Linked DNA regions of Homo sapiens: region 2 is linked to region 1. Evidence: fine-mapped expression QTL. A gene starts in region 1. The other region holds a variant in brackets. All regions are shown on one strand. Distances are from middle to middle.

Region 1 (10,560 bases):
ATGGAATAAAAGATATGATGAACATTAAACCTGGCATATTTCACTAATTTCTGATATTTTTGTACTGCTAAAATTACCATGCATCTGGTATTTTGCTTTTCTTTTCCCCTTCAAGTTTGTTATAAGCATTTTTATTTATATCATAGTATATTCCACAAGGTTAAAATTGTTTGGTGGGGCCAGGTGTGCTAACTCTTACCTGTGATCCCAGCACTTTGGGAGGCTGAGGCAGGAGGATTGCTTGAGGGCAGGGAGTTCGAGACCAGTGTGGGTAACATAGCAAGACCCTGTTTTTTTAAAAAAATAAATACATAAATAAAATAAATAAGTAAAATTGTTCAATGGTTATAGCCCATTTTCTCCTATTGTTACTGCAGTTTGCTAAGCCATTCTCCTCTCTGCACCTCTCCCTCTCTTAGCCATTATACATATATATAGCTATAACATAAAGCAAGTAATATTTATTAAATGTCTATACTGCAAAGGTGATCACACTTTTTGCAGGTGTTTTGGAAAATAATTTCAAACTTTCTAGGAAAAATGGCAAGAATAGTACAAACAACCCAGATTCACCTCTTAATATTTTGTCTAATTTCCTTACTATCTCTCATACTTATTTATGTTTATATTTATACATGTCATTTTATTCAGAATCATTTGAGAATAAGTTGCATACATCATGGGTCTTTGCTCCTAGATAGTTCAGAGTATATTTTCCTTTTTTTGAGATGAAGTCTCGCTCTGTTGCCAGGCTGGAGTGCATTGGCATTATCTCGACTCACTGCAACCTCTGCCTCCTGGGTTCAAGTGATTCTCCTGCCTCAGCCTCCCAAGTAGCTGGGACTACAGGTGTGTAGCACCATGCCTTGCTAATTTTTTTGTATTTTTAGTACAGATGGGGTTTCACCATGTTGGCTAGGATGGTCTTGAACTCCTGACCTCATGATCCGCCCACCTTGGTCTCCCAAAGTGCTGGGATTACAGGCGTGAGCCACCGTGCCCAGCCTGAGCCCTCAGAGTGTATTTTCTAAGAATAATGATATTATTTTACATAGCTGTAGCATAGTCATAAACTTCAGTAAATTTAATCTTGATACAATTTTATGTTCTAATCTACTATTTATATTCTAATTTTGTTAATGAACCTAGTGATAACCTTTATAGCAGTTTTTCTCCTCCAATACAAGATCCAGTCTAGGATCCATATTGCATTTATTTATTTATTTTTATTTTTGAGATGGAGTCTCACTCTGTCACCTAGGTTGGAGTGCAGTGGCGTGATATTGGCTCACTGCAACCTCTACCCCTCCGGATTCAAGGAATTCTCATGTCTCAGCCTCCCGAGTAGCTGGGACTACAGGCACAAGCCACGACGTCCGGCTAATTTTTTGTATTATTAGTAGAGATGGGGTTTCACCATGTTGGCCAGGCTGGTCTCGAACTCCTGACCTCAGATGATCCACCCACCTCAGCCTCCAAAGTGCTAGGATTACAGGCATGAGCCACCACACTCGGCCCTATACTGCATTTAGATGTCCTGTCTCTTCAGTCTCCTTTAATCTGGAACATTTTCATAGCTTCTCTTTGTCTTTTATGATATTAACATTTTTATAGAATACCATCCCCCTTCTGTTTTTATTAATAGGATGTTCCTTCTTTGGGATTTATCTGGATGATTCCTTATGGTCAGATATAGGCTACATATTCAGGTTATGCAGGCCAGATAAAAGACGTGTATTTCTCAGACAAACCAAGATACCCTTGAGAGTGAAAGATGGTGCTTGCTATATTTACGCTGAGATAGTGGGTGTAAATGTGTCTTAGGCAAACTGGGATGTGTGGTTACCCTACTTACATAAGTGATTATTCTCATTTTACCAGTCTCCATACTGGGACTAGATAGGTTAAATCACTTACTGAAGTGATGGGACCAGAACTTAACCTCAGATCTTTCTTATTCTAAAACATCCATTTCCTGTCCCTGCCCCCAAACTAGTGCCATTCAACTGTATTTAGAGTAACTCTTCCATAGCTGACCTTTCATCAAGTCCTGTGGAATCTATCTCTACGAACATGTCTCTTGAATTAACAAATTCATTCAGCAATGATTTCTTCCTTATGCATACGATCTCTACTCCTACTGAATGGTCTCCTATCAGTGATATGGTCTTTAGGGCTGTTGACAAATATTGCACACTCCTTCTAAGCACATAGCAGGATTGCATTTCCCAGTGCACCTGAAGTTAGACAATACAACCACAGCATTTTGCTAAGATCTTTATTTTAGAAGTTGTCCAGATTATCTTGTGTTTTCATTAGTCAGTATGGATTCGCCTCCTGCACCCTGAGGGCAGAGACTTGATTTTGTGCAATATTTAACTCTGAGGCTACGCTTTGTGAGGAGATATTTTCTGAGTGTTTATTTCACTGGATTAAATTGAAAGAATTTTTTGTTATGTTTCTAGAATATATTTTTCTCAAATGGTATTGCCATGTGTGGTCGATTGAGTTGTGGGTCCTGATTCTCCACTCCAGCATGATGGGATTATCCACCCACACCCTTGCCAGGGCCTCAGGCTGAGCCCTGCCTCCTCCTTGCTTCCTCTTGACTTTATTTGTGGCCATGTGATTTGCTTTGACCAATGAGATGTCAGCAGACATGATGCAAACAAAGGCCTGGGATGAGCTTGTGTGGCTGGGCTTGCTCTTGTGCTTTTTTCATTGCTAGTTTAGAAGCTTGAGGGACATTGGGAGCAGAGCAGCCCCTGCTGAAAGGAGACCTACAGCTGGAAGACAGCTGAGCTCCCAGCCCCAGGGAATGCAGTGATAAATACTTCTATTTTGTTCTGTAGCAATATTTGACTGATACATGGTATCATAGGGAACAAATGATTTTATAACTCTTGCTATATGTTGGTTTTGCTCTCGTGAGGAAGCCTGAAGTCAATTTACCATGCTATCAGCATGGTATATGTGCACCTACAAAAATATTCATGTGGTTATCCTCAATTTGACCATACAATTACATTTTATGTATTTTTATTTATTATTTTTATTTTTATAAATAAAAGAAATGGGGGTCTCACTATGTTGCCAAGGCTCGTCTTGAACTCCTGGCCTCAAGAGATCCTCCCACTTTGGCCTCCCAAAGTTCTGGATTAGAGGTGTGGTCCACTGCACCTGGCCAAATCTAATTTTAAATGGTTTAAGAAAATAGAACAATAACCATGCCACCAGCACAGTTTAGGGCCTTGCAGAGCTTTATTCCAGACGGAATCTATTATCTTGAGGTAATATTTTGGTGTAATAATAAACTCCACAAAGATCTGTGTAATTTTCTTTCTCTATCTTTGATAACTATGACTTTAATTTGTAGTATAATCACACACAATCCATATAGTTAGTAATTATATGGTACTACTAATCCTTTTAAGAAAACAACCCTTTTGATACTTATTTTTAAAGTTGGAGATATGACAAAATATTTACATTCAGAAACATTCTCATCAAGTGGTATTAATTTCTTTTCTTAAATTTACTTTTAAATTTGTCAAAGTCTAGCTATTAATTATATATATATATTTTAAAAGCTTGTCCTTAAAATCCAACTATTAGTTCCATAATAAAAATTAAAATGGAACATAATGGCACAAAATCCTTTATTATTCTCGAATTGAGGGTTGGCCAATTAATGGCGGATCACTTGAGCCCAGGAGTTTGAGTCCTGCCTGGGCAACATAGCAAGACCCCATCTCATTTTTTATTAAAATTTTTTTGTATTACATTTTATGTTAAAAAAAGAAAAAGAAAAAAGCAATCTTTTTTTCTTTTTCTTTTTTTTTTTTTTTTTGAGACGGAGTCTCACTCTGTTACCCAGGCTGGAGTGCAGTGGGGCGATCTCGGCTCACTGCAGCCTCCGCCTCCCAGGTTCCAGCGATTCTCCTGCCTCAGCCTCCCAGGTAGCTGGGATTACTGGCACACGCCACCACGCCTGGCTAATTTTGGTATTTTTAGTAGAGACGGAGTTTCACCATGTTGGCCAGGCTGGCCTCGAACTCAGGTGATCCGCCCGCCTCGGCCTCCCAAAGTGCTAGGATTACAGGCGTGAACCACCTATTACAGGCCCATGGGTGGGGCTCTATTTGTTTTTTCCATTCAAGAAAGCATGTCAAACTCCATCAGAGCATGGGTGAATTATAAAAACATAACCGTGCATGTCTCCTAAGTTATTGTAGGCTTTTATGCACGGGTATTACTAAGAAATTACTTGCGCCACACCTCACTACTTAATGGAGACATGCCATTTTATTTTGCATCCATGGTTAAGAACCTCTGCTATACAGAAGGGTCCTAAACGTCATGTTATGATTATGAAAAAGAATTGCATGCATAACCGAGCAATTGGAAATAAAAAAGACCAAAAGAAAAAAAAAAGAATTGCTTAAGTAATCAGAAAAAAAAAATGGCATTGTTAAAGAGTTCTACAATTGAGTTTGAATGCAAGAGGAGACAAAGTGACAAGCCCTGGGCTCTTGAGCTAGTCCAAGTTTAAAGAGTTCGCTTGGGGATTCCTTCACAGTCCCCAGTGGAACCAGTGAAAAGAGCGTCATGGCTCCCGTGTCCCCTGACCCTCCATTCAATCAAAAGCAACAGGCCTGAACAATCACGGAACAAAAACCTCATTGCCCAGCGTAACCTTCCAACCCCGGAGCTGTATGGGCCGCTAATCCGCCGCACAAAGCGGGCCGCTGCTCTTTTCTTCTCCCGCGCCCGGGCCCAGCGTGGCGCCCAACTGCTGATCGGCTCTGGAACGTCCCAGCAGCGCGCCGGGGGCCTCCGGTGTTTATTTAGCGGGCTGCGGGCTGCGCCGGGGGCCTCCTGGAGAGCCGGCTCGGCGCCGCCCGCGCGCCCGCGCCAGAGCAGCCATGTACCGGCGCAGCTACGTCTTCCAGACCCGCAAGGAGCAGTACGAGCACGCCGACGAGGCTTCGCGCGCCGCCGAGCCCGAGCGCCCGGCCGACGAGGGCTGGGCTGGGGCAACGAGCCTGGCGGCGCTGCAGGGGCTCGGCGAGCGCGTGGCCGCCCACGTCCAGCGGGCCCGCGCCCTCGAGCAGCGCCATGCCGGGCTCCGGAGGCAGCTGGATGCCTTCCAGCGCCTGGGCGAGCTGGCCGGGCCCGAGGACGCCCTCGCCCGCCAAGTCGAGAGCAACCGCCAGCGCGTCCGGGACCTGGAGGCCGAGCGCGCCCGGCTGGAGCGCCAGGGCACCGAGGCGCAGCGCGCGCTCGACGAGTTCCGAAGCAAGTAAGCGGCGGCCATCGGGGGAAACCGAGGCAGGGCGTGGGCCGTCCCGGCGGCGCGGGGCTGGGAGCACGCTGCTACCATGCAGGGGTGGAGCGCCGTCTCTGGTCCCCTGTCGATCGATGACCTCATCCCTGCACGCAGGTGGCACATTTCCTTAAGCTAAGACTGGCTTCTGTTTTGATGGCACGTCACAGTTTACACGAAGTTGTATCATTTACTTTTCATCTATTTTTAAATTTTGGTATAACTTACATGTTATAAAATGCACAGATTTGAAGTGCATAGTTCAGTGAGTTTTGACAAATGTATATACCCGTGTTACCACGAAAACAAGTGAGATATTTCCACTACCCCTGAAAGTTCCCTCCTCCCCTTTCCCAGTCAGTCCCCTTTGCCCCAGACCGGAGGCACCCATTCTGATTTCTATCACCATAGATTGACTTTGCCTATTCTACAGTTCCACAAAAATAGAATCTTACGGGATGTACTCTATTGTCTGGCTTCTTTTGCTCAGCACATTGGTTTTGAGATGTACCGATGTTATTTAATCCTTACATACTTATCTTTACTGCACCTGTTTTACAGATGAGGCGACTGAGGCTCAGAAAATGTAGGGATTTGGCCAGCAAGGCCCCTCAGCTGGCGAACTGCTGTCCCGGGACTGGAATTTAGGTCCTGGGCATGCTAAGTCTAATTGCCTTCATGGCATAGCAGCTGACACCTGGGAATTATGCTCAGTATGTGTCCTCTAGTGTCTTGATACTCAAAGTGCGGTCCATGGACCAGCAGTATTGGCATCACCCGGGAGTTTGCTAGAAATACAGATTCTTGGGCCCACCCTAGAACTCCAGAATCAGAATCTGCATTTTAACAAGCTCCCCAGGTGATTTTCAGTTTAAAAAGTTAAATGTTGACTAAGCAGCACTGGTCCAGGGCATGGTCTCCCCTCCCACAGATTGAGTAATGTGTTAAAATCACATAGGAGCTGTTAAAAAAAAGATGCAATTTGTCAACATTTTTTCAAGTTATAAATGTGTGTGCTCTTTGACTCAGAAGGCTACTTTGAGGAATGTATTATAGGATGCACTCCAGCAGGTGTGCAATGGCATGCCTCCACCAATACTGCAGCAGGTACACTCCAGCAGGTGTGCAATGGCATGGCTGCAAAGATACTCACTGCAACAGGTACACTCCAGCAGGTGTGCAATGGCATGCCTGCAAAGATACTCACTGCAGCAGGATCTGCAATAAGCCTGGAACCAAATAAATGCCCATTAAAAGGAGACAGGTGCTTCCTCCATGTAATGGAATACTATGCAGTGGAAAAAAGTATGTTATTGTCATGTAGTCTTTTAAAAGGGGAGGAGAGTAGAGTTTTTTTTTTGCTTGCATAAAAAGAATTTCAGGACACACACAAAGACACACACACACAGACACACACACAGGCACATGCCCCAATGACACTGGCTACCTGAGGGAGATAAGTGAGTAGGAACTGAGCAATTGGGAGACAGAGGTGGGAAGGAGACTTTTAACAGAACATCTTTTTATATCTTTAAAAAAATTATTTAACTATGGGCTGGGTGCAGTGGCTCACGCCTGTAATCCCAGCACTTTGGGAGGCCAAGGCAGGCAGAACACTTGAGGTCAGGAGTTCCAGACCAGCCTGGCCAACATTGTGAAACCCTGTGTCTACTTTAAAAAATACAAAAATTAGCTGGGTGTAGTGGCACACGCCTGTAGTTCCAGCTACCCGGGAGGCTGAGGCAGGAGAATCACTTGAATCTGGGAGGCGGAGGCTGCAGTGAGCTGAGATTGCGCCACTGCACTCCAGCCTGGGTGACAGAGTGAGACTCTGTCTCACACACACACACACACACACACACACTTATTTAACCATGTAAGATATTCATCCATTTAAAATTACATAAATGAATTTTAAAATACAGATGTCTAGGCTCTACCCTGGACCTCAAGAGGGGCCCAGAAGCTTAAACATTTTTAATGAGTGCCACTGGTCATTCCAGCCAGATTTGGGAACCCTTGGCATAGGGTAGTCAGAGGATTTCTGTAAACCTGCTCTATGTTTGAGTTCCAGTTTCTCAATCTGAATCTTGGGCAGGTTATTCATTGTTGTGTTCTGAACACATTTATCAAATCACATTTATTGATTCGATTCCTGTCAGCTCTTTTGTCTTGGGGTTTAATCTGTAGAAACAGACTTGGAGCTGGTAGAAGGGACCTGAAAATCCACTTGTTACAGAACTTCATGGGGAAACTGAGCCTGGGAGAGGGCCTGTGGGTGGCAGAACTTGAACCTGGGTTTTCTCACCCTGGGCCTATGCTCTTTCGGGAACACTGTATCTTGAGATAATCCGTTCTTGGACTCCTGCAGCCTAAGGCCCAGAAATAGGACCTCATTCAGATGAAGCTCATGTTCTCCAAAGCAAAGGGGGAAAGTGCCCTGTGGCTCAGACATCCGGGGCAGCTTGATGGACCATCAAGATTCCCTGGATGGCCTTTGTGTTGGCATTAGACCATAGTCTACTGTACTTTGGCTGGTAAGCATGACATCCATGAGTCCTAGTTGAAGGAAAGGCCATGTTGGGTTTTCCTGGTCTTTACTGATTGCACTTGGTTCTGAGTTATATGCCCATCATGAAGCAGTTCCATCAGGCTCTGTGATTTATTTAAAATTCATATTAATTTATTCCCTCCCTTTGCCCCCTTGGAGAAGTTTTGACATTTGGATTGTGGTAGTGGGAACTGAAAATCATTATAGAAATGCTCATCCACATCCATAGGCACACACACATACACATACATGCCAGGCTGGAGTTTACATTCCAGAGGTGAGTTGATGGCTACCTAAAGCCAGGGGAAAATAATGCAGCAATGGGTTAGTATGTGCAGGCTTGGTTCCATGCCAGTGCTAGGCATAGTCTCTACCTGGCAGTTGAATAATTTCAAAATCAGGTCTTTAACAGGTCAAAGACTAAACAAAACACTGAATAAAACAAGAATGAAATAAAAACAAAACTATCAAAATACAACAACAGAGTCAATTATTCAAATTGTTGAAAACTAAAAATAATTTATGTAAAACAGTTAATTGAAGCCAGTTTTTTCACTTTATGAATATACTTATATGAATATACACATCATGAATTCTTTGTAGTGAAATCACTCTCTCTCTCTCTCTTATTTTATTTTATTATTTTTTTTGATACAGAGTCTCGCTCTGTCACCCAGCCTGGAGTGCAGTGGCGTGATCTCGGCTCACTGCAAGCTCTGCCTCCTGGGTTCACGCTATTCTCCTGCCTCAGCCTCCTAAGTAGCTGGGACTACAGGCGCCCACTACCACACCCTGCTAATTTTTTTGTATTTTTAGTAGAGACAGGGTTTCACCGTGTTAGCCAGGATGGTCTCGATCTCCTGACCTCGTGATCTGCCCGCCTCGGCCTCCTAAAGTGCTGGGATTACAGGCGTGAGCCACCGCGCCCGGAAATCACTTCTCTTTAATATAATATCTAGACTTGTCTTTACAGCATGAAAATTACTCACAATATCAGGTTAATGTGTTGATCCTCAAACATGTTCTTAAGCTATGGAAACTCTTAGATATTTCCAGCAGGAAAGAGCAATAAGAAAATTAGATTTTATTAAGTTTTATTCTCAAAGCTAATTATACATTTAAAAACTAATTTCTGGCTCTGTTATTGCAACACACAAAATAAACTACTAAATGTAACATCCTGATGTGAAATGTAAAACTTATGCAGAGATGTTTAGTTTCCTAGATAGAACTCAGCTTCGCAGATGGTTTTAGATCTGGGAATGCGTGCACATTGCACATATTCATAATTGTTCTTCCTTCAGTTCATGACTTTTCCTTCTGAGAACATGGTGGTGTGGTTTTCTAGCACCTTTCATGGTTGCAGAATACTTGACTTGAACCCATGGCATGGGCATGCAAGGGCACAGAAAACTATGCTTTGTGGATTGGGCTCAGTGTTAATTAGGATTGCTTTCAACTATAAAGGACAGAAACTCCAAACTGACATTGACCCACTTCAGACCAATTAGGATGGCAACTATAAAAAACAAAACAAAACAAAAAACAACAGAAAATAAGTGTTTGTTAGGATGTGGAGAAATTATGGACTGTTGATGGGACTGTAAAATGGTACAGCCATTGTGGAAAACAGTATGGCAGTTCCTCAAAAAATTAAAAAATAGAGTTACCATATGATGCAACATTTCCATTTCTGTGCATATACCCAAAAGAATTGAAAGAGGGTTTTGAATAGCTACTTGCATATACGTGTTCATAACAGCACTGTTCACAATAGCTAAAATGTAGAAGCAACCCAAGTGTCCACTGACAAAGGAATACGTAAACAAAATGTGGTCGATACATAGAATATTATACACCCTTAAAAAGGAAGGTAATTCTGACATATGCTACAATATGGTTGAAACTTGAAGACATTATGCTAAGTGAAACAAGCCAGTCACAGAAAGAAAAATATTGTATGATTCCACTTACATAAGGTAGTTGGGCGTGTCAAATTCATAGAGACAGAAAGTACAATGGTGGTTGTCAGGGCTGGGGATGGGGAGAATGGGGAGTTAGTATTTAATGGGTACGGAGTTTCTGCTTTGCAAGATGAGGAGTTACAGAGATGGATGTTGGTGGTGATTTCACAACATTATGAATATATTTACTATCACAAACTATATACTTAAAATGGTTAAGTTGGTAAATTTTATGTTATGCATATTTTACCAGCCCCCCCCCCCCCCCCCCCGCCATACAGAAAAAAACAGAAAAAGTGATACTGGCTTACCCAAAATGTCATTGGCTTATCCAAAATGTTTCTCACTTGTGTAAGGTCTGGTTAAGCAGTTTAGTATGATACTGTACAGTATTTGGGACACAGAAGGTTCTGTGTGGCCTTCAGGAAGGCAGCATTCATGTTTCTGGCTGCAGGATGGAGGGAGGGATGGAAAATGAGAAGCAAAGGGCACACATACACCATTACTTAACTAAAGGTATCTGGAAGCTGCCATGCAGACTTATGCTTCCATCCCATTGGTCAGGACTTAGTCACATGGCCACACCTGGCTGCAAGGAATGCTGGAAAATGTAGTCTCCCTTCTAGGCAGTCCTGTGCTTGCCAAGCATCAAGGGCTCTAACTCCTGAAGACAGCAAGAATGGGCATTTGGGGGTCACCTTATAGGGAACAAGGGGAGG
Region 2 (10,560 bases), 24 kb after region 1:
TCCCAGGGAAGGGCTCACAGGTTGGACTGTGAGGGCGGCCACCAGGGTCCACTCCCCACTCCTGCCTTGTATTCTCATCTGAAGTTTCTTCTTCTGATATTTTACTTGTACTGTAAATGCCAATATTTAGACATGTGAGGATGTAAACCGCATCCTTGACCATTTTCTTCGGTATTTTCTCTTGAGAATTATGAGCTGTTCTTCCTTGCATACTTTATAAGAAATGACCAAGCTGCTTTCCAAAGCGATGTGCCATTGTTGCATCTCCACCCACAATGCGTGAGGGTTTCTGTGGCTTCCTGTCCTTGCCAGCACTTGGTATGTCAGCTTTGTAGTGTGTCTTTGCTCTTCTAATGGTGGTGGTTTTAATTTGCATCCCCTAATGACTAAGGAAGCCGAGCATCCTTTTGTGCACTCATCTGCCATCCGGATAGCTTCTTTGTGGAAGTATCTGCTCAAGCCTCTTGCCCATTTAAAAAATTGGTTTGTTTCCTTATTCTCCCTATCAATCTGATAATGAATTTCAAATACAGATAATCTCAGATAATTAGTGAATATATTTCCAAGACGGAGCTCTGCTAATGATTATGTGAGCCTGTGGCATTGAAACTAGTGGGAAAGGATAGAGATTGTTGAAGCCAATTTGTAAAAATTAAGATTTGGATATGAAAAATTACTTCTGATATTATGTTCCAAATTCCTTCTTCATTTGACTCTCTAGCTGCTCAACGGGATAGTAACGCTTTTCCTAATATGGTTTATGGAATTTTGTGATGCATAGCATGATATATATATATATAGACTGGTGCTGAGTGAGGTGGCTCATGCTTGTAATCCCAACTACTCAGGAGGCTGAGGTGGGAGGATCATTTGAGGCTAGGAGTTCAATACCAGCCTGAACAACATAGCAAGACCCCATCTCTAAACAAACAAACAAACAAGAAGCAAAAAAACCCCACAAACACTGGAAATGATGCAAATTAAATAAAAATGTTACAGTGTCCCTTCTTCAGAGGTTGTGGTAGGCTACTACAGGGTTTGGTGGATTGGTCAAGAGATAAGGTTCTGGGTCTTTTTGCAAGGATGACCTAGGATGGTGGCTCTCAACCCTGGTGACACTTGAAATTGCCTAGATGTGTGCTCAGGCCATGCTCCGAGTCAATGAATGGGCTTCCCAGGAGGTGGGGCCTGCCCAGGACCAGCATGCAGACAAACTGCTGCAGAACCCATGGGCTGGGGTCACCGGCTGCCTGAACTTTTTCGTCTTAATTATTTTATACAAAGCTAAAGAAATCCCCAAATTTGCTTTAGAAGACACTTTTGAACCCTGCAAAGTATCATCTAAGCGACAGGAAAGTTACTTTTTTTGGCATTCATGAGGATAGTCTTGTCTGAATTGCCCACCAGTTACCATTTCAGGATCCTGTTCTCCTTAGTGGATGTAACTGATGTTGCTACAAAGGCCTAAAAAAACTTTTCCTGAAGCCTTAATTTTCTTTCCCAGAGATTCCTTTCCAGAGATGTTACTTTTATTTTTCAAACCCAACTCTAACTCAAAGGTGTTTTACATCCGAGCATACCTTTTGAATTGTATCATCTATTCCCATGTAATAAGACCCTTCTAAGTCATAAGTATACAGACACTAAACTGACTTTGATGTCATCGATCAGCATCGTCTGGGCTTGTGAGACGTGCAGAGTGTCCAGTCCAGCCTCAGACCCACTGAGGCAGAATCTGCATCTTAGCCAGATCCGCAGGGACTCGTGTGCATGCTCAGGATAGAGAAGCACCGATTGAGAAAGTGTCACATCTTTATGAGTCTTAGCTTAGCAATTCTACAATCAAGTTAGACGGTCACTTTCCTGTATGTCTATGTCATTGCTGCAGCCACTTTGTAAGGTGTTTGAAGCAGAGGCTGTCTTCCATGCAGCCTCTGGACACAGAAACCCTCATTGTAGACTTGGTGTTTGATTTTGCATGGCTTCGAGTCAATGTGCTCTGTGTCAGAATGCATGGCTCTTGAGCAGTCAGGCCTTTGTGAAACAATTTGAATATTTTTGAATAGACGTGGAAAGGCAGGTCAGGAGAGAGGGACCTGCTTGGCAGAGTGTGGAGAGGTCAGAGGATTTCCTTCTAGCCATTCCCTGGAGCGTCACTTCCCTTTCACCCACTGGGGCTGATGGCTCCTGCTTTGTGCTGCGCTGACATCCGAGCACAGCGTATGGCTCGCGGCTCCAACCAGCCTTCATTTTCTTCGAGAGTGTGCATTCCAGGTTTTCCCTTTCACAGAAGGGAAAACAGAGGCTTTGAGAGTCAAATCCTTTTCTAGAGTCTCTTAGTAGGTTCATGGCACAGCCAGGTCTAAGCTCTGGTCTCCTGGTACTTGGTCCCGGCATGTCACACTCCCAAGGAGGTTCAGACTTTGAAGACAAAGCAAAAGGCATTGATGGCTGTGCTGTGGGCCTGGCTTAGTCTTCTCAGGCTACTATAACAGGACACTACAGATGGGAGGGCCGACAGGCAGACATTTACTTCTCACTGTCCTGGGTGCTGGAAGTCCAAGATCAAGATGCCAGCAGAATTGGTGTCTGGTGAGGGCTCTCTTTCTGGCTTGAAGACGGCTGCCTTCTTGCTGTGTCTCACGTGACAGACAGACAGGGGGTGGGGGTGGGGGCTCTGGTGTCTCTTCTTGTTCTTACAAAGACCCTAATCACATGATGGGGCCCCCCATCCTCATGACCTCATCTAACCCTAACACCTTCCAAAGGTCTCCTAAAACCTTCATCTTGGGAGTTAGTTAGGGCTTCAACACAGAATTCAGGGGGACACGGATATTCCGTCCATACCAGGGCCCCGCACCTTCTCTGCCCTTTTCCTCTCTGCATGTCCCATGAGTCTGACTCTGGCCTTCTCTGTGCAGGAGAAGCTCCTGACGGAGCGGGAGGTGGCCGCCCTGCGGAGTCAGCTGGAGGAGGGCCGGGAGGTGCTCTCCCACCTGCAGGCGCAGAGAGTGGAGCTGCAGGCACAGGTACGCTCGAGTCTGCCGCGTGTGCATTGGGGCTTCCCACATGTTTCATGGAGGTGTTACGCGCAGGCACACGCATGCAGCTTGAGGAGCTGTCACACGCTGAACATATCCTATGTTCCTGGCAGAAACGGGGTTTTCTGAGTGGGTGGCCAAGCGCTCTGCTCTGGCCTGGACTGAGGAGTTTTCCAGGACACAGGGAGAGTCCTGAGCTGGGGGACACAGGTGCCACGCTCATTCCTGGCCCCTCAGAGGTGCCCCTTGGGACTCCTTCGAGTCATGCCCTCCCCACCGAGTCTTAGGCTTAGGCTGCCCCAGTGTCTACATCATGCATTCATTTTGCCCAGGTCAAGCTTCGTAAGAATAAGAAGAAACGGACACCATAGGGATTTTTATCCTCCACTTGTTCAAATCTGTGCTTCTGTTTTCCTTCTCATGGTAACAGTTCTCCTTCGGAATTTGATTACAACCCGGCAAGAGTGGTTGTATCAGTGTTTGCTTCTAGTTAGAAACGTGTTGGTGGAAAGCTCACATTTCTACCCCCACCCCTTTTGGGTGAAGCTTAATTTGAAAACAAAACAGAAAAGCCCCAAACTGTCCTGTGGCCTGTGCCTTCTTGGCTACTTGCCGGCTCATCTTCTTTGTTCCTTCCGGTTCTCTCTCTTTCTCATTACCCTACAGCAGGTCATTCCACAGGGACGCTTGGGTTAAAATACTGCACCTTTGTATGGCTCTCTAACCACATTTCCCAAACCAAAAAGTAAGTTGACATTTGGTTTGACAAGTACACATGGGGACAAGAGAGCAAAACGTGTAAAAATCGGACACTTCAGAAAGCCTGGACCATTTGGATGTTATGTGTTACTCTGTCTAAAAATGTGAAGCCACAACTAGATGTAGCGCTTTTTATTGATTTCCAGTGCCCCCATGTCTGCTCAGGATTTCATTTTGGGACCTTGGAGTTCACATCCTAATTCCCATCCCAGCACGCACCACACAAAACTCACAGTGCAGCAGCTCTCAGGGGCTGCTGGAAAGCAAACCCGGGTCTGTGGTGGTCCCCTGAACTGACGATCGCAGCAGGAGGAACCAAGTAAGGCACTTAAAACTCCTCCTTCTTGTGAGACAAACCCTGGCTCAGGGACCATGTGCCTCATCCTGGTGACTGGGGCCTGTGTGGTTTCTTCTGAGGCTCTGACAGGATAGAATAAGGGTTGTATGTGTTTGTGTACATGGGGTGTGTGTGTGTGATATACATGGTATGTGTGATATATGTGGGATGTGTATGTGAAGTGTGTGTGGTGTGTGTGTGTCATGTGTATGTGTGTGTGCTGTGTATGTGAATAGGGACGTGGATACAAGCCCAGTCGTGGTCCTAGAGACCAGTGTTTTCCAAATGGCTAGTGACAACTCATTTTTGGATGTAAAATGAACTCAGTAGAATTGACTGGCATGTAAAAGGAAGTCAACAAAATGCTAGACTAAAATATAATAAGAAAAACAGAGTGTACAGCAAGTGAAAGGGAGGATTTGTTTTGTGAAGCCCTTGTTTTATCTCTCTATATCCATATGGATATGTTGAAATACACACACACACACACACACACACACACACACACCTACCTATCTGATGTGTATGGCTCGCAATGAGAAATGTGGTTTTTCCTGGGGCGGTGGTGATAAAGTTGAAAACCACTGCCCTAGAGATACTGAGAAAGATGAAGGAGCCCAGCCTAGATGGCAAATTCCAGTTCCAGGACAAAAAGAATGTTCCTCTCTTTATGTACAGGTATTTGTTGAATATCAAAATAAGAAATTTCACAACAGATTAACCTGGTTTCTGAGAACATGAAATGAAACCGCTGGTTGGCCGCCTGTTTCTGTCCTGAGTGGCTGCAGGAGGACTTCCTGGCTTTTCCCTGCTGCCCTCGTCTCTAAAGCAGGGTCTCAAACATCTCTTCTGTGCTGCCTCCTCCACTCCCACCCGTGGCATTCTGATGGAGACCGCTTCTCAGAAAAATGATGGTAAAGGCATAAAATAAAATACAGATAATTTAAAGGAAACCAGGCTGGGTGTGGTGGCTCACGCCTGTAATGCCAGCACTTTGGGAGGGCAAGGTGAGTGGACTGCTCGAGTCCAGGAATTTGAGACCAGCCTGGGCCACATGACGAAACCCCACCTCTACAAAAAATACAAAAATTAGCTGGGCGTGGTGGTGCGTGCCTGTGGTTCCAGCTACTTAGGAAGCTGACATGGGAGGACTGCCTGAGCCTGGAGAGGTTGAGGCTGCAGTGAGCTGAGACTGAGCCACTGCACTCCAGCCTGGGCAACAGAATGAGACCCCGTTTCCAAAAAAAAAAAAAAAGAAACTAATTATATTAAAACAGTTATCAAAATATTACTGAATCATTTTAAATAAAATGACAGATGTGCTTATACTCACTCAGTAACAAGCTATAGCATGTAGCTGATGAAACACGGCTGTGTCCATTTTCTGTTGCTGCCTTGATGAGTCACCACCAGCACCCGTGTCATCGCAGTTGTGTAGGTGGGAAGTCTGGGTGGGTCCTATCGGTTTCTCTGCTCTGGGTCTCAAAAGGTAGAAAGAAAGATGTTGGCCAGCCTGGGCCCTTGTCCAGAGGCTGTTAGGGGAGAATTTGCTTCCAGTCTCATTCAAGTTCTTGGCAGGAGTGAGGACCCTGTTTCTTTGCCGGCTGCTGGCCAGGAGTGGCTGTCAGGGCTGCCCAGGCTCCTTGGCTTCAGGCCCCTCCACGTTCGGAGCCGGCAGCGAACTCTGAACCCTCTTCCTGCGTCTCATCTCAATGACTTGGACTTACACGTTTCTCTGACTTCTGTTTTTAGGGGATAATCTTGAATAAACTCCTTTCCTTAAAAAAGGGTAACTGATTAAGAACTTTAATTATATCTGCAAAGTCCCTTTTTGCCATGTAACATATTCAAGGGTGTAGCACCAAGGGGAAAAGGTCACGGGGGCCAAAATTCTGCCTCCTTAGCTCTGATGAAAACCCAGACGTGGCTGGGTGCGCCCGGGAGCTCCTGACTCAGTGGGTCTGGGGTGTGGCCCGGGATGCTGCATGTCTAGGTGTCCCTGTGATGGTGCTGCGGCTGGTCCAGGAGCCACACTGAGAACCACAGGGTAAGGGCGGGTCCCAGGGAGTGGGCGAATGTTCCACCTGGTCCCCCTGTGTCCCAGGCTTGGGCCTCATTTCAAATGTTTGTGGC[T/A]GGGTTTTTGCTGGTTTTAAAGGTTTTAGTGGCTTCCCAATGTAGCAGCTAAGCTAGAGCTGAAGGAAGATGTGGCCGCACACCGCCGGGCAGGGCCCGCTCTGTGGCCGGAACTCGGTGGAGGGCGGGCCGAGAGAGAGCGTCTGCTAGCACCAGGGCCGTGGCAGCGGGTTCCGCCTATGGTTAGGGCGTCCGAAGCTTCCCGAACTCTCCACAGCAGGGGTCGTCAGGGTGAGGTCCCCGTCCCAGCAGCGGGGGCACCACCTGGGAACTTGTCAGAAATGCAGATTCACAGGCACCCCAGACCACTGACCCAGGAGCTCTGGGGCGGGCCGGTGCGCCTTGTTTAAGCCCTCCACGTGGCTCTGCGGGCTCAGTCTGGGAGACGCTGGGCGGACGATGGGAGAATAGTGCCTGGGCTTGGAGCTGGAAGCTGGAAGCCTCTCCTTCAAATAAGTGCACATATACCCGTAAGAGCCCCGGAGGAAGCACTTCGGACAGGTGGAGAGGAAAGGACAGGTAATTCTAGTTCCCTAAATTGCATGGACTGAGAGTTTCTGTGACAGGGAAGTAAAGAAAGTCACTTTTTAAAATTGCAAAGTGGGAACCGCCCATGTCTCATTTCTCATTAAAGTCACTTAGCACCATCTAGTGGTTTAGTTTGTGTAAGACAGTATGTAATGAGTTTCCTTTTTTTTTTTTTTAAGACAAAACAAAAACAAAAACAAAAACAAAAAAAAAACCTTACACCTAAAGGTGTCTGGGGTCCTAAGGACTGAGGTGAGAGCTCACCCCTCCAGATGGGGCTCGCGTCAGGCTCCTGCCTGTGTCGTGCCCTCAGCGGCTCACAGCCCAGTGGGGAGACAGATATAAACCAGGCAATCTAACGGTCCAGGCAGAAACAGCAGTCACCTGGCTCCGGATAAAGTTCAGGTTGCCACATGGCCCCACCGTTGGAGGAACCCTGGGCCAACCTCTCTTCTCTTCGTCTCCTGACCCCTCCTGCAGTTTCTGGGACCTCCCCTTTGCTCATTCCTTCTCTCCTTTCTGGAAGTCCCTTTCCTTCCTCGGTTCCCAGGACCGGTCCTGCCTCCTCCTGGAAGCCCCTTTCTTCCTCTGAGATGCCCTGGGCGTGCCTCCCCTGCTGGACTGCGGCCTTCTAGAGGAGGGTCCGTGTCTCATTCTCCTCGGCCAGGCTGGTGCTGGGTGGCAGTGGACGCCGTGCCACAGTGGCTCTCGTCACAGGCATCTCCATTCCTGTTGAGCTCCTGAGACAGGAGCTCTTACTGGTTTTCCTGAACACTCTTCCTTCTGATGAAAGGTTTAAATTATGGAGCTGTAAAAACCACATCGGTATAGACATCAGTCCACTTTTATAAACCAAGTCATCACTTCACTGGACTCAGCAGAATCCCGTAGAGCATCTGCGACCAGTACGGAGTTGGAGGGCTCTGGGCCTCATGGTCATGTGGGGGATGGGGGCTGTGGGGGCGCCCAGGACAGGAGCTCCTCCCGCAGTGTTCCAGCAGAGGATCTCCAGCCTTTAAAACATGCAGCCTTCTTCAAACAAACACAAATGCACACCCAAGAAAACACCCCATCCCTCCACCCCCTACCACTACCACAAAAACAACAATCACCACTTCCTGAGACATAAAAAGATTGCACTCCACTTGTAGGGTAGAAAGATCACAGGTGACTTTCCTGGGCTCTCATTTCCCATTCTGTGATGCTTTGTGGTTCTATTTACAGTTTAAAACTTTGCTAAGTGAAAACCTGCAAGGAGAGGTCTCTGCATGGCTCACACTGACTTTCCCATGTCTTCAGAGAGAACAGGCTGGTGTTGGCCTGTTGCTGTGTGGGAATGGGGAGTTTGCAGGGGCCCTGGAGACAGAGTGTGTGTGTGTGCACGCACGTGTGTGCTTGCATATTGTTGCCTGCAGCAGGGAGGAGGCTGAGGTGCAGGGCAAGGGTGGCCTGGTTCTGGGAGGTGTTTCAGACCTTGTTCAGGTAGATTCGAATCCTGCTGTGGTATTTATGGGCAAGCCACTTTGCCAGTGTGCCCCAGTTTCCTCATCTGTAAAGTGGAAATAATGACAGCCCTTCCCTGATAAGGTTGTTGTGAGGTTGATGAGTTGACCCAGCTTAGGACTTATCAGCATGAGCCACTACCCCCGCTCTGGGCTGGGGAACCCACACCCAAAAGGAACGGCCACCCCAGAGCTCTTGGGTCAGTGATCTGGGGTACATTCTCTTCATATGTAATTTTTTCTTTTACTCTTTATTATGGAAGATTTCAAACATAGAAAAGTGAGAGATTATAGGTGCTATGGCTCACGCCTGTAATCCTAGTACTTTGGGAGGCCAAGGTGGGAGGATCACTTCAGCCCAGAAGTTCAAGACCAGCCTAGGCAACATAATTAGACCTTGTCTCTACAAAAAAAAATTTTTTTTTAATTGGCTGGGCATGGTGGCATTCACCTGTGGTCTCAGCTACTGAGGAGACAAAGGTGTGGGGACCACTTGAGCCCAGGATGTGGAGGCTTCAGGGAGTCCTGATGGCAGCACTGCACTCCAGCCTGGGCAATAGAGTGAGACCCTGCCTGTCTCAAAAATTAAAAGTGAGAATAGTCTGTCTCATGAGCCCTCCCGCCCCATCCCTCAACACATGGCCCCTCTATGTTCTCTACAGCCCCACACACTTCCCTCACCATGTAATTCCAACACTTCTTTGAGATTTGGGGCTCAAAGGGGTCTTTTCAATCCCCATATTCCTTGAAAGTGTTTCCTGGAGTGTCTGAACACTCTGGTGTGGGTGAGATGTGGCTGCACCAGGCGTTAGTGTGTCTGACTTGTATTTGCTATTACAGGCGACTGTTTGAATCCAGATTTCTTGGGAGAAACAGAAACTGGATCACACTAGCTGAAACAGGAAGGGGACTCTTGTTTTATTCAGAAGTAATTTTAGATTTTTGAAAAGTTGCAAAAACAGCACAGTAGCTTCCAATATATACCCCTCACCCAACTTCCACAAAACCACGGGCCGATGATAAAAACCTGGAAATTAACAGTGATCCTGTCGCATTAATAGACTGCACTAAAATCTCACCAGTTGCTCCACGCGTGTTTTTTCCTGGTCGAGATCCTACTCACATTTAGGTGTCATGTCTTGATTGTCTCCCCCATACTGGGATGGTCCCCAGTCTTTCTCTGTCTTCCATGACCGTGATGCTTTGGAAGAACCCAGACCAGTGGCTTTGTGGCATGTCTCTCCTTTTGGGTTTCCCTGATGTTTTCTCAGGATTAGATGGAGGTTCTGCATTCTTGGCAAGACCCCCATGGAGTGACGCTGTGTCCTGAGTATTTCGTTATGTGGCTGTGTCCTCATACAGGTGACAATAACTCTGATCACTTGGTTAAGGTGCTGTCTGCCAGTTTTCTCCACCGGAAAGGTACTATTTTTTTTTTTTTCCAAAGGAGCAGGGTATAAAAGGCAGGGCATGAAATCTGAGAGCAGGTGTGCATCAGGAATCAGGAACCAGGAACTGGGAGCTGAGGCAGCCGCTCTCCGTCTCCTTTTCCATCTCTTCCTTCTCTTGCCATGGCTCCCTAATTTCTGTTTGTCTTTGCCTTTCGGCTTCATTTCTTTTCCTCTCCAAATAATTACCTTTCTCAACTTTGCCATGCACATGAAAGCTCGCCACTCCAGAGCGGCAGCCTCAGACCCGTTCATGTGTCCCTGTTGTCTAGAACCTCCCACCAACTCTGCGATTTCTGAGACCCCTTTCCAGATTCCCAGGAGAGAAGGCATGTGACAGGCCAGCCTAGGTCAGGCCCACCCCTGGTCCTATAACTCTGCACAGGAGAGTGGGGTCATCTTGTTGCTGGGACCGTGCCTTTGGATGGGTGGGGCTGACATCAGACACAGGGACAACGTGGACTGGACAGACATCTCCCCAAAGTGCTTAGCACACGTACCTTTTCTTCCCTTCCTCCTCCCTTCTAATGCAACAGATCTATGGCTGAACACCTGCTTTTTTTTTTTTTTTTGACAGAGTCTCGCTCTGTCACCCAGTCTGGGGTGCTCTGTCACCCAGTCTGGGGTGCTCTGTCACCCAGTCTGGGGTGCAGTGGCATGATCTCGGCTCACTGCAAACTCCACCTCCCGGGTTCAGGTGCCTCAGCCTCCAGAGTAGCTGGGATTACAGGCACCAGCCACCACGCCCAGCTAATTTTTGTATTTTTAGTAGAGATGGTGTTTCACCATGTTGGCCAGGCTGGTCTTGAACT

What was found.
Region 2: its variant is fine-mapped to the expression of BFSP1 in whole blood (TOPMed, PIP above 0.99).

Annotation. Positions count from the first base shown.
Region 1 is chr20:17,525,695-17,536,254 of GRCh38, reverse strand. BFSP1 (beaded filament structural protein 1) reads left to right here and starts at 4,876. Exons shown (of 8, transcript NM_001195.5): 1 at 4,876-5,302. The coding sequence starts at 4,926. RefSeq lists enhancers at 2,663-2,722, 4,536-5,075, 5,076-5,616 and silencers at 4,812-4,861, 4,982-5,311, 5,332-5,381.
Region 2 is chr20:17,501,358-17,511,917 of GRCh38, reverse strand. It overlaps BFSP1 (beaded filament structural protein 1), which reads left to right. Exons shown (of 8, transcript NM_001195.5): 5 at 2,922-3,029. Among named protein-coding and RNA genes, the nearest start is that of BFSP1, 25 kb to the left of the region's middle. RefSeq lists an enhancer at 6,883-7,406. The variant T/A (reference allele first, on the strand shown) is at 6,271.